Regions from separate parts of the Homo sapiens genome. Here region 1 is linked to region 2. A link means that fine-mapping ties the variant in region 2 to the expression of a gene that starts in the linked region. Tissue or cell type: whole blood. Region 2 holds a variant in brackets; the other region holds the start of a gene. All regions are shown on one strand. Distances are from middle to middle.

Evidence for each region. PIP is the estimated chance that this variant, and not a neighbour inherited with it, causes the effect.
Region 1: it holds the start of GTF3C2, and the variant in region 2 is fine-mapped to the expression of GTF3C2 in whole blood (TOPMed, PIP above 0.99).

What each region holds. Positions count from the first base shown.
Region 1 is chr2:27,354,196-27,360,499 of GRCh38, reverse strand. GTF3C2 (general transcription factor IIIC subunit 2) reads left to right here and starts at 3,736. Exons shown (of 19, transcript NM_001035521.3): 1 at 3,736-3,761. GTF3C2-AS2 (GTF3C2 antisense RNA 2) reads right to left here and starts at 3,735. Exons shown (of 4, transcript NR_183827.1): 1 at 3,644-3,735; 2 at 2,598-2,692; 3 at 1,040-1,615. RefSeq lists enhancers at 3,406-3,535, 3,115-3,728, 3,546-3,885, 3,936-4,215, 3,729-4,342 and 1 more.
Region 2 is chr2:27,434,719-27,441,053 of GRCh38, reverse strand. NRBP1 (nuclear receptor binding protein 1) reads right to left here. Exons shown (of 18, transcript NM_013392.4): 6 at 6,292-6,332; 7 at 5,827-5,921; 8 at 4,218-4,301; 9 at 3,949-4,007; 10 at 3,694-3,792; 11 at 1,156-1,288; 12 at 546-651; 13 at 352-402; 14 at 114-249. Among named protein-coding and RNA genes, the nearest start is that of KRTCAP3, 4.5 kb to the left of the region's middle. The variant G/A (reference allele first, on the strand shown) is at 3,184.

The sequences.
Region 1 (6,304 bases), 81 kb after region 2:
TCGCGCCACTGCACTCCAGCCTGGGCGACAGAGTGAGACTCAGTCTCAAAAAACAAACAAAACCTTCCTCTCATCAGTTATTTTGAACTAGAGTTCATACTGGAAAGACAAGATAAATGCCTTACTCTTGCCTTTTTTTTTTTTTTGCCAATTTTCAGGAATTGGTCACTACTTTCTTTTTTTCTTTCTTTTTTTTTTTTTTTTTTAGAGCTTAATGAGTTTTTTTTATTTTTTTATTTTTTTATTTTTTAATTTATTTTTTTATTGCTAATTCTTGGGTGTTTCTCACAGAGGGGGATTTGGCAGGGTCATGGGACAACAGTGGAGGGAAGGTCAGCAGATAAACAAGTGAACAAAGGTCTCTGGTTTTCCTAGGCAGAGGACCCTGCGGCCTTCCGCAGTGTTTGTGTCCCTGATTACTTGAGATTAGGGATTGGTGATGACTCTTAACGAGCATGCTGCCTTCAAGCATCTGTTTAACAAAGCACATCTTGCACCGCCCTTAATCCATTTAACCCTGAGTGGACACAGCACATGTTTCAGAGAGCACAGGGTTGGGGGTAAGGTCACAGATCAACAGGATCCCAAGGCAGAAGAATTTTTCTTAGTGCAGAACAAAATGAAAAGTCTCCCATGTCTACTTCTTTCTACAGAGACACGGCAACCATCCGATTTCTCAATCTTTTCCCCACCTTTCCCGCCTTTCTATTCCACAAAGCCGCCATTGTCATCCTGGCCCGTTCTCAATGAGCTGTTGGGCACACCTCCCAGACGGGGTGGTGGCCGGGCAGAGGGGCTCCTCACTTCCCAGTAGGGGCGGCCGGGCAGAGGCGCCCCTCACCTCCCGGACGGGGCGGCTGGCCGGGCAGGGGGCTGACCCCCCCACCTCCCTCCCGGACGGGGCGGCTGGCCGGGCGGGGGGCTGACCCCCCACCTCCCTCCCGGACGGGGTGGCTGCCGGGCGGAGATGCTCCTCACTTCCCAGATGGGGTGGCTCCTCACTTCTCAGACGGGGCGGCCGGGCAGAGACGCTCCTCACCTCCCAGACGGGGTCGCGGCCGGGCAGAGGCGCTCCTCACATCCCAGATGGGGCGGCGGGGCAGAGGCGCTCCCCACATCTCAGACGATGGGCGGCCGGGCAGAGACGCTCCTCACTTCCTAGATGTGATGGCGGCTGGGAAGAGGCACTCCTCACTTCCTAGATGGGATGGCGGCCGGGCGGAGACGCTCCTCACTTTCCAGACTGGGCAGCCAGGCAGAGGGGCTCCTCACATCCCAGACGATGGGCGGCCAGGCAGAGACACTCCTCACTTCCCAGACGGGGTGGCGGCTGGGCAGAGGCTGCAATCTCGGCACTTTGGGAGGCCAAGGCAGGCGGCTGGGAGGTGTAGGTTGTAGCGAGCCGAGATCACGCCACTGCACTCCAGCCTGGGCACCATTGAGCACTGAGTGAACGAGACTCCGTCTGCAATCCCGGCACCTCGGGAGGCCGAGGCTGGCGGATCACTCGCGGTTAGGGGCTGGAGACCGGCCCGGCCAACACAGCGAAACCCCGTCTCCACCAAAACCAGTCAGGCGTGGCAGCGCGTGCCTGCAATCGCAGGCACTCGGCAGGCTGAGGCAGGAGAATCAGGCAGGGAGGTTGCAGTGAGCCGAGATGGCAGCAGTACAGTCCAGCTTCGGCTCCACATGAGAGGGAGACCATGGAAAGAGAGGGAGACCGTGGGTAGAGGTAGAGGTAGAGAGGTAGAGAGGTAGAGAGGTGGAGGTAGAGGTAGAGCAGTTTAATGGTCACTACTTTCAATGGTGTAGGATGAGTAGCTGATATTTTGGCTTTTACTTTTTTTAAAAGATCATTATCAATACATGGATTTCTATATTTTGAACATACTACTTAATCATCAAAATTAAGCAGAGGATCAACAGGGTTGCTTTATGCTTTAGAAAGATAACCGGGCCAGGCATGGCAACTCACACCTGTAATCCCAGCACTTTGGGAGGCATAGGCAGGAGGATCGCTTGCGCTCAGTAGTGTGAGACCTGCCTGGGCAATATAGCAAGACCTCATCTCTATTAAACAACAACAACAAAAAAACCTGGAAGTGGTGGTATACACCTGCCACACACCCCAACTATTCAGGAGGCTGAGGTGGCAGGTTGAGGCTGCAGTGAGCCGTGATTGCACCACTGTCCTCCAGCCTGGGTGACAGAGCAAGACCCTGTCTCAAAACAAACAAACAAACAAACAAACACCTAGTAGAAATTAGAGGCAGAGAAGTAGATCAGTGAAAAGATTGGTTATAAATCAAAATTACAAATGCACCTAAAACTTTGGTTCACAATTCCACTTCTAGAAATTATCCTACCCATATAGTTACACATTTGAAGTAATTTAGATGCAAGGTTACTTATAGCAGTGTGATTTATAATAGCAAGGGACCATTGTTTATAACAGCAAAACCATGTAAATATGCATCAATATCAACAAGGCACTAGTTATACCACATCCACCCAATTAAATGCTAACTAGTTATAGCACAGAATGAGAAAGGTTTTTGTGTACAGAAATGGAATAATGGCCAAACTCAGTGACTTACACCTGTGATCGCAGCACTATGGGAGGCTGAGGCAAGAGGATCACTTCAGGTCAGGTGTTCAAGACCAGCCTGGTCAACATAACGAGACCCCATCTCTAGAAAAAATTAAAAAATTAGGCCGGGCGCGGTGGCTCATGCCTGTAATCCCAGCACTTTGGGAGGCTGAGGCAGGCGTATCACAAGGTCAGGAGTTCGAGACCAGCCTGGCCAACATAGTGAAACCCCTTCTCTACTAAAAAGACAAAAATTATCCGGGCTTGGTGGCGGGCGCCTGTAATCTCAGCTACTCGGGAGGCTGAGGCAGGACAATTGCTTGAACCCGGGAGGCGGAGTTTGCAGTGAGCCGAGATCGCGCCACTGCACTCCAGCCTGGGGACAGAGCAAGACTCCATCTCAGGAAAAAATAAAAATAAAAATAAAAACGGGGTCTCACTATGTTGCCCAGGCTGGTATCGAATTCCTGGGCTCAAGTGATCCTCCCCCGCCTTGGCCTCCCAAAGTGCTGGGATTACAGACAGGAGCTACCATACCCAGCCAAAGTCATGCTTTTCTACTCCTACTCCTTCCCTTCCTTGTCCTCTTTCCAAGCTCTCTCGGGCCCATCCCTGACTTCACTACTGGCAGAATCCTCCAGCGGCCGGCGGCGAGGACTTCTTTGTCTCCCAGACTCCGCCTTGGGCTCGGACGCCGCCAGGGTTGCAGGTACAGACTCTCTGGTCTAGCTGGCTCTTCCGGCCACAGGCGCGGCAGTCCGGCCGGAAAGGCCGGATTCAGGGATCCAGAGCGCGAGCCCGGCCTGGGAGTCCGCCTACTCCCGGCTCCCGTCGAGGCCGCGTGGGATCCCGTTGGCCGCGCAGGCGTCGATCTCCCCTTTTTGACACTGCAACTCCCATGAGGCCCTGCAGCGTCCCTGGCGCCGCTGAAGACGCCCTGGAACTCGGCTGGCTTCGGAGGGCTCGGTGACTCTGGCCGCGCTGCATTATGGAATACAGAGTCTAAGAGAAAACTAGCCCGGCACCGACTCCGGACCAAGCACACGTGTTTACCTTGTGCACTGGGGTGGGGGCGTCAGTGAAGAGCAGCTAACAAGATTTCGTCATAAGACCGCGACCAGACAGGCGGCGCCATCTTCGAACTTAGACTTCCGGAAGGACTTTGGCGAGGGTGAGTGTATCGCCGCAGCGGGTGTGTGGGGGGCCCCACAATTACTCCTCCCCCTTCTTTTGCCATAGCACTAAGATATTGGGAACAAACTCCTGGCTCCGCTCTTCTCCCAGCCACAGCAGCGCGCCTTTCAGCGTCTGCGCTCCTACAGAGCACCATCATGCTCCGCACCTTCCCTACTGTGGCCACCGTGCACCCCCCATCTCTGCAAGCCTCGGGTCTTGCCCTCCTCCCCCACGCGGTGTCGGTAACGCGGAAGCCTGTGTCCGGGCGTAGGCGCTGCATACGTAGCGTCCCTCGAACTCGGCGAACCTACAGTAGTCCTTGTTAGAAAAACCAGGGCTCCTCTCCCGCACAGGCTAGGGGAGAAATCTACCTTCACGCCCAGGACTGAAGAAGGGCAGGTGATGGCCCCTAGAGTGGTTGTGGGTCAATCTCTTTCAGCTGTGTCCCAGCCTCTTCCTCGAGGAGGCTCTTTAACCCCGAGGGTTGTGCCCCGCGCGCTGCAACGCCATTGGCGTAACCAAGGGCCAGTTGTGTTTCCCTGTCTAGTCCTTTTGTCCCGTGGCAAGTTGGCTGCCTGTTGGGGAAGTCAGAGGTGGCGACTTCAACTCCGTCGGAGGCAACTCACTTTGTTGGAGGGATGTATAGGGTATGGACAAACCTCTTTGTTCCAGAGGCATATACAATTTTAAGTCAATCCCGTGCCATCACTATTTTTGCAATCTCTTATCAATTGTACTATTGTTTTCTGAATAGTTCTCTTTAAATTGACTTACTTAAAAAGTTTAAATGCATTAGTCTCGACCTAAGCAATATAAATGAAACCGTGGGTTTCATGGGCTACTTATAATTGTTTATGTAAGTTGAAATAAAAGCACTAGTCATTAAAATGTTCGTTTTCGTACCATTAAAATCATCTTGCATACCGCCAGTTGTACCCTAGGAACACTTTAGGAAACAATATATTAAGCTAAGCAGTGTATTCAAAGTAATTTCATACTTAAGGTGCAGTGTTGTGTCATTATTTTTTCTTGGCTGGGGAGGTCAAGCTGGCATCCTGGAGCAGCATGGGAACCAGACAGATTGGGGTGCAATGGAAGGTTTTAGAAACTCAGTACGAATTTACTGATCATCTATTCCTTTACTGTGTATCCAGAATTTGTACCATTACATCCTGCTGCTGCCTTCCATGAGAAGTGTATTTTTTTTTTTTTTGATACGGAGTTTTGTTCTTGTTGCCCAGGCTGGAGTGCAGTGGCGTGATCTCGGCTCACTGCAACCTCCGCCTCCCGGGTTCAAGCGATTCTCCTGCCTCAGCCTCCTGAGTAGCTGGAATTACAGGCGCGTGCCACCATGCCCGGCTACTTTTGTATTTTTAGTAGAGACGGGGTTTTACCATGTTGGTCAGGCTGGTCTCGAACTTGTGACCTCGTTATCCGCCCACCTCGGCCTCCTAAAGTGCTGGGATTACAGGCGTGAGCCACCGTGCCCGGCCAGGCAAATTATATGTACAGGCAATTCATAAAAGTCATATGGATGTCCAATATATAGAAAGAAGTTGCTGACACCAATTATTATCAGTGCAAATAAATAGAGTGGGGAAGAATTCTTTCACCTATCAGATTGGCGAAAATTAAAAAGATCAGTAACGGTATGATAAAATGGGTACTAATATACATAAATAGTTTTAATTTTGGTGAGCCGTTTGGTAGTATCAAATTTTGAAATGTGCATGTTCTTCAGTGTAGTACAGTAATTCCATGTTCAGATGATTATTCGAGAAAAATAATTTATTGATGAATTAATGAAGAGATTTGTACTAGAATATTTATTGCAGTATTTTTTGAAATAGTATTTTAACTCATTTGTTCATTAAATGAAGATTGTCTAAATAACTAATTCTATGGAATGCCATGCAGCAATTAGGAAGAATGAGATAAATATATGTATACTGATGTAGAAAATCCTTTAAAAAAAACCGGAATCTTCCTCTGTCACTCAGGCTGGAGTGCAGTGGCGTGATATCGGCTCACTGCAACCTCTCCCTCTGCCTCTTGGGTTCAAGTGATTCTCCTGTCTCAGCCTCCCGAGTAGATGGGATTACAGGCGCCTGCCACCACGCCGGGCTAATTTTTATATTTTTAGTAGAGATGGGGTTTCACCATGTTGGCCAGGCTAGTCTCCTGACCTCAAGTGATCCATCTGCCTTGGCCTCCCAAAGTGCTGGGATTACAGGCGTGAGTCACAGCACTTGGCCTAGAAAATCCTTAAGACTTGTATAGAAGCTCTCTTAACTGATTTCCATTTAGCTCCTTATGTTAACTGACATACTCTTATTTCCTCTCTAAATGCTTGAAGCTTGAAGGTTTTTCTCCTGTAGACGTGGTCAGTCTGCTTCCACTAGTTGAGTTGAATGCTTGCCAAGAGTCATTGTATTGGTTCCCACTTTTTTTGAGACAAGATCTTGCTCTGTCACCCAGGCTGGAGTCGAGTGGCATGATCACAGCTCACTGTAACCTTGAACTCCTGGGCTCAGGCGA
Region 2 (6,335 bases):
ATAGGGCATGGCTGCTAGGGAGCATTTTCTCTAAAGGATAGAGCCTTATTTGAGATGTCCTCTCTCCCTTCCACCACAACCATGGAGACAATCCACACCCACACAGCCCCCACCTTGCGAGTCTCCACCTCAGCTGGTTCAGGTGTCGGAGTCTTGACAGAGGGGGGCACGACAGGTGATGTCACCTCCTCCTGCTGTGGCTGCTGGGGCCGAGGCAGCCCAAAGGCTGTCAGAGGATAGATCCCATTCCTGGAGGGAGATGAAGACAGGTCACATGGGCTCTGTGAACGCCTTAGGATACCCAACCCCGCCTGCTTCCTCAAGAAAGCCTGCTTCTCACTCTGCTCTCACCTGACATCTTCAAGGAATTTATCTAATTCCAGAGCTGGTGACTGAGAGTACCTGGACGAGAAAAGAGAAAGGAGATGGAAGGAAAGAAACAAGCAAAATAGCAAATTCAAGCATTCCCAGAGAATGGACAGTTTACAGAGCCTCAAGAGTGGTCGTGACCAATCTGCCCCTTTCAGACCCTCTCAGTTACTCACAAAGTCTGAACTGGTTCTCTTCCTGGTCCTGCAGGGATTTCAGCCAGTACGGCACTAGTATCCATGTTTTTGGTGATCTCCTCTAGAGCGTTCTCTGGGATCATGTCTGGAGGGCATGATGGAGTGGGATATTATGAAGGGATAGTCAGATTAAATGTCAAAGAAGGCATGCAGGCAAAGGGGTAAAGAATCCCTTTGGAGGCCTGGCACAGTGGCTCATGCCTGTAATCCCAGCACTTTGGGAAGCCGAGGCGGACAGATCACTTGACGCCAGTTCAAGACCAGCCTGGCCAACATGGCGAAACCCCATCTCTACTAAAAGTACAAAAATTACCCAGGCATGGTGGCACATGCCTGTAATCCCAGCTCTTCGGGAGGCTAAGGCACAAGAATCGCTTGAGCCTGGGAGCTGGAGGTTGCAATGAGCTGAGATCAAGCCATTGCACTCCAGCCTGAGAGAGAGTGAGACTCTGTCTCAAAAAAAAAAAAAAAAAAAAAAAAAAAAAAAAAAAAGAATCCCTTTGGAAATAAAGAGGAAAACAAGCATGCCAGTGATAGTTACAGGGCTCCAGATTGGAAGACTATTCCCCATAGGGCCAAGACGACTCACGTTGGTGTCCCACAATGCAGTGGGCCGCAAGGAGTTTGAGCGAGGGCACTTCAAACAATGCTGGGTGGAACAGAAGTTCTCTGGCTGTTGGTCTGCGAGCAGGCTCAGACTGCAGGCACTTTTGAATGAACTCCTAGAAAAGGAAACAAGGAACTGGAGCAGGCATCTGGCAAGCCCCCAGTGTGTTCATCTTTATAGCTCTCATTCTACTTAGCACAAGGCTTTGTACATAGTAGGTGCTCAGCACTTGCTGAGAAAACAATATATTGAAAAATGCACCTGAAAGGGCTTCAAAAACTGTAAGATATTATATGAAAGATACCATCCACTGCCTTTCTGGTTTTAATTATTTTTCTGCTCTCCAACCACAAGCTTTCTTTTTTAATGTTCACAATTTTTTTTTTTTTTTTTTTTGAGACGGAGTCTCGCTCTGTCGCCCAGGCTGGAGTGCAGTGGCGCAATCTCAGCTCACTGCAACCTCTGCCTACCGGGTTCACGCCATTCTCCTGCCTCAGCCTCCCGAGTAGCTGGGACTACAGGTGCCCACCACCATGCCCGGCTAATTTTTTGTATTTTCAGTAGAGACGGTTTCACCATGTTAGCCAGGATGGTCTCAATCTCCTGACCTCGTGATCCACCCGCCTCAGCCTCCCAAAGTGCCGGTATTACAGGCATGAGACACCGCGCCCGGCCCCACACTTTCTTTTTCCTTAGTTTCTACCTCTCTGCTTTATTAGTCAACTCACTGCCTATCTTCTTTTCTAAATCTTGCCAAATTTAGCTTCTCTCTTCCCAAACTTACCCAATGTGATCAATATTCACCATTTTTTTATTTCACAAGCCTAGTATCACAATTTCCTTTGCCCACAATCACTGAATTCACCGAATTTCCCAGGATTCCTCTAACGATTCTGCCTTATTTTCTTTCTTTCTTTTTTCTGAGACAGGGTCTTGCTGTGCCAACCAGGCTGGAGTACAGTGGCACAATCACAGCTCACTGCTGCCTCAACCTCCTGGGCTCAAGCAATCCTCCCACTTCAGCTTCCAGAGTAGCTGGGACCACAGGCATGTGCCACCATACCCAGATAATTTTTATTTTTTCATAGAGATAGGGTTTTACCACGTTGCCCAGGCTAGTCTCGAACTCCTGAGCTCAAGTGATCCTCCCACCTCAGCCTCCAAAAGTGCTGGGATTAAAAGTATGAGCCACCATGTTCCACCACCGCCTCCTTTTCTACCTCCTGCATGTCCCATGACAATTAACCTGCTTTCCTGCTTTTAACCTTGAAGGCTAACAAGGTCACATACCTAATCTTTCACTTGAATACTCCACCTCAATGTTGAAGTAGAAACTTACTCCACACTATCCTCCTGACTTCCCACTAGTCTTCTTTTCTCTCCTGTTCCCTACTATACTTATCTAATGAGTTACAAACTGTTCTTGTTTGGACCTTCCTGCCCAGGCTCTGCTTACTATAGTCTATCAACTGATTCATAACCTTATGTCTTTTAAATCTTAGCTCATTATTTCAGGCCACCGTCCCTAACTAAAACTGTATAAATATAAAATCCCAAACAACTGGTTTAATTTAAATTGACTGATGTGCTTAAAAATATAAAAATGGCTGTCTGAGAGTATACAGCAATGGCCTGAAGTAACCATCAAATTAATTTACCTCCATGTAGACACATTCAAATTAACATACTTTTTTTTTTTTTTTGAGACAGTCTCGCTCTCTTGCCCCAGCTGGAGTGCAGTGGCCCAATCTCAGCTCACTGCAATCTCCGCCTCCCGGGTTCAAGCTTGCCTCAGCCTCCCGAGTAGGTGAGACTACAGGCACACACCACCATGCCCAGCTAATTTTTGTATTTTTAGTAGAGACAGGGTTTCACCATGTTGGCCAGGCTGGTCTCAAACTCCTGACCTCAAGTGATCCACCCGCCTCAGCCTCTCAAAGTGCTGGGATTACAGGTGTGAGCCACTGCACCCAGCCAACACACAACTTTTTTTTTTTTCTTTTTTTCTGA[G/A]ACGGAGTCTACCTGTGTCGCCCAGGCTGGAGTGCAGTGGCGCGATCTCAGCTCACTGCAAGCTTTGCCTCCCGGGTTCATGCCATTCTCCTGCCTCAGCCTCCTGAGTAGCTGGGACTACAGGCTCCCGCCACCAAGCCTGGCTAATTTTTTTTGTATTTTTAGTAGAGACAGGGTTTCACCATGTTAGCCAGGATGGTCTCGATCCCCTGACCTCGTGATCCGCCCGCCTCGGCCTCCCAAAGTGCTGGGATTACAGGCGTGAGCCACCATGCCCGGCTTCCAACACACAACTTTTAACCCCAGCATCATCCATCTTAACCCCCTTACCTGTGTGTTTCTATGCAAAAACATGGTAGGCACCTCCTAAGAAAATGTTTATAGATTTTTCGTGTCCTTTCTGTTATGTTCCCTAGCTCTTAGGAGCATATACCCAGTGGGTACAAAGGAAGAAAAACCAGAAGACATTTGAAGGTCAGTTGAGGAGGGAGTGATCCTGAAGATCCTTACCCTCTGTAATGGGTCTTCTAGAAGCTGGATGGCACTGCTGATGGCTTCCTGTGGCACATATGAGGACTCTCCATTGCCCTGAATCTCCAGCACTGCCATCTTCAGTGAGGAAGAATAAAAAAAAAAGTAGACACCTAAGAACTTCAGTGCTCCCACAATCACTCCCTCCAAGCCAGCGCCTTACTTGTCTTCCCTCCATTCCCAATTCCATCTTCTCATCTGACCCCTTTCCCCCCTCCCCTCCAGTCCCCTCACCTCCAGTGCACACATGCCAAAGGAGTAGATGTCCACTGCTGTTGTCACATTAGTGACTTCTAGGGAAAACAGAGAAGGCTTTGGTTAATCAGAGGATTGGGGGCTAGGGTTGGCAGGAATGCCTTAGGAAAAAAAAAAAAGAAAAGAAAAATATTTTGTATGCTGGTAGAGAAGGCCTAGAAGTTTCAGTTATATTGCCTCTGTACCTCAAGTTATAAGGTGCAAAAGCAGGGGGATGAGGACAGGGCAGAGAAAGCAGGAAGGCTCACCTCCATACTCTGGTGCAAAGAAGTGTAGATTCTTCTGCTCTTCTCGACAAGTCTTCACATGATTGTTGATAGTGTCAGGAGCCACTGGGAGTAGGGGAGACACCCACAATCTGACCATCATCAATGAAGAATAGTCTCACTCCAGAGAGAGGCCCCAAAAGCCAAATTCTCTCCTGAAGTCTCCTTTCTGATGACCCTCAACAGGCACAAACATATTCCCTTTCCTGTCCTGAACTACAGACCACACATGGATGCCACCTACCTCCCCTTTCTTAGGCCTACTGCTTCTCATCTAATGTCCCTAAATCAGGAGCAACAAAAGCACCAGACTAAATTAACAGATACACAGGGGCTTCAGGCTGGTCTAGAAGCAATGAAGTTTAAGGAAAAATTTTCACTTGTACTGCGTTCACCTTCCCTAAATCCCAGGTACCTCTAATCCCTGCTCACATGAAAATATTTGGTTTTAGTTTTTTCATCCACCCTGCAAATAACATAAAAACACAGGCAGCCCTTCCTAATCTGGGACAATTGGAGACCTCAGGAACTTGGATAAATAAGGATAAGAAGTATTAACATACAGCTCAGGAGGTAGCCTCCTTCTTACCCACCTTTGCTGAGTGAAACTCAAAACAGCTCAGAATTGAGCTAATACCCTTGAATCTGTTCCACTTTTAATCCACCAAAACATTTTAGACTCCTGTTCTACCCCCTTATTCCTCAACACTGTCTGCCACAGAGCTGAACGAGGAACCAGGACCAGGCCCAATTTGGACTCACTCAGATCATAAACAATGACTACAAGTCACAGAGAATCTGGGAGCACAGTATGATCTGGGAACTAGCCTGATGATGAGGGAGAACATGAATCCAGGAGGTAAGTGGCCAGCCAGGCAGAATCCACAGGAAACAAGCAGGTTATGAAGGGGCAAGCAGGCGGAGGGCTGGCAGGGCAGAAGCTAAGCAGGCATAATTAGGCAGGGAAGATAGGGGAAGAGGGTTTGCTCCCACGACTGCATGCACTGGGCAGCCGCCAAGGGAGCAGAGGGAGCACAAACAGAGCCCCAAGTGGGGCAGAGGGAGCTCTCACCATTAGCAAAAATCCTATGAAAGACTGTTGGGAACAGAGCAGCCCGTAAGCGGGAGGGAGGAAAACAGAGAAAAGTTGTGAGCGATGGAGCAGCCAAGCCCCAGACAAATGGACACACAAATACCACACAGACACAGCACACAGAAATGTTGTACACTGCATACAATACACAGCAAACGAAAGCACTCACAGCAGGAACAGCCTGGAACCTCCTCTGGCAGGGTCTGGCCCCAGGACTCAAATCAAACCTCAAACCTATCTCTTGCCCTTTCCCAGCCTCTTATCAGTATCTCTGTATTAACCCCAATTTTCCCTTCAAAAAGGTGTAAGATTATATATCCTACCCCCTCTCCACTAATTAACTGGCCTCTCCTATTAATTACTCCTAGCAAGGTCCTTTCTCTTCTCACCAGCCCACACCTCAGAATTTTGCTCTGTTATCCCCCATTCCTTTCATCTTACCCCCATGGTTCCCAAATTCCCGAGGCTCCCCTGCCCAGAACCTCTCCCTCCCCTCACCAGAGCCAATCTTGATGAGTCCGTTGTGCTGGATGAAGATGGTGTCACAGGTCAGGTTCCCATGGATGATGGGGGGGTCACAGGAGTGCAGGTAGCTGTGGGGGCACTGGGCTGTTAGAGGGGCCACTGGGAAATTAAGGGCAGGGGGAACCCAAGGGTTAAGAGGAGCAAGGGCCAGGTCTCCTGCTGGTCACCATAAAGATAATCCCCACACTCTGAATCTCCATTATGCCTGATGATTTAAATAGCTGGATAAGCACTAGGAGAAAGAGGTAGGAGATAAGTGTCGTGGTTAGGGCATTAGGACGCACCCTTTAAAAGACCCGTAGGGGCCCTAATCTTGACAGTATATGATTCAAAGAAAGTGGGGAGAGGCAGAATAGAACAGAAGAGTAGTGCCCTGAAATCTGTTTGGAGTAACTACATCAGGAAATATGGGTAAGAAACTAACCAGGTACTACTTACCTTAGGGCAGAGAGGATTTGTGTGCACCAACGCTTCCATGCCTG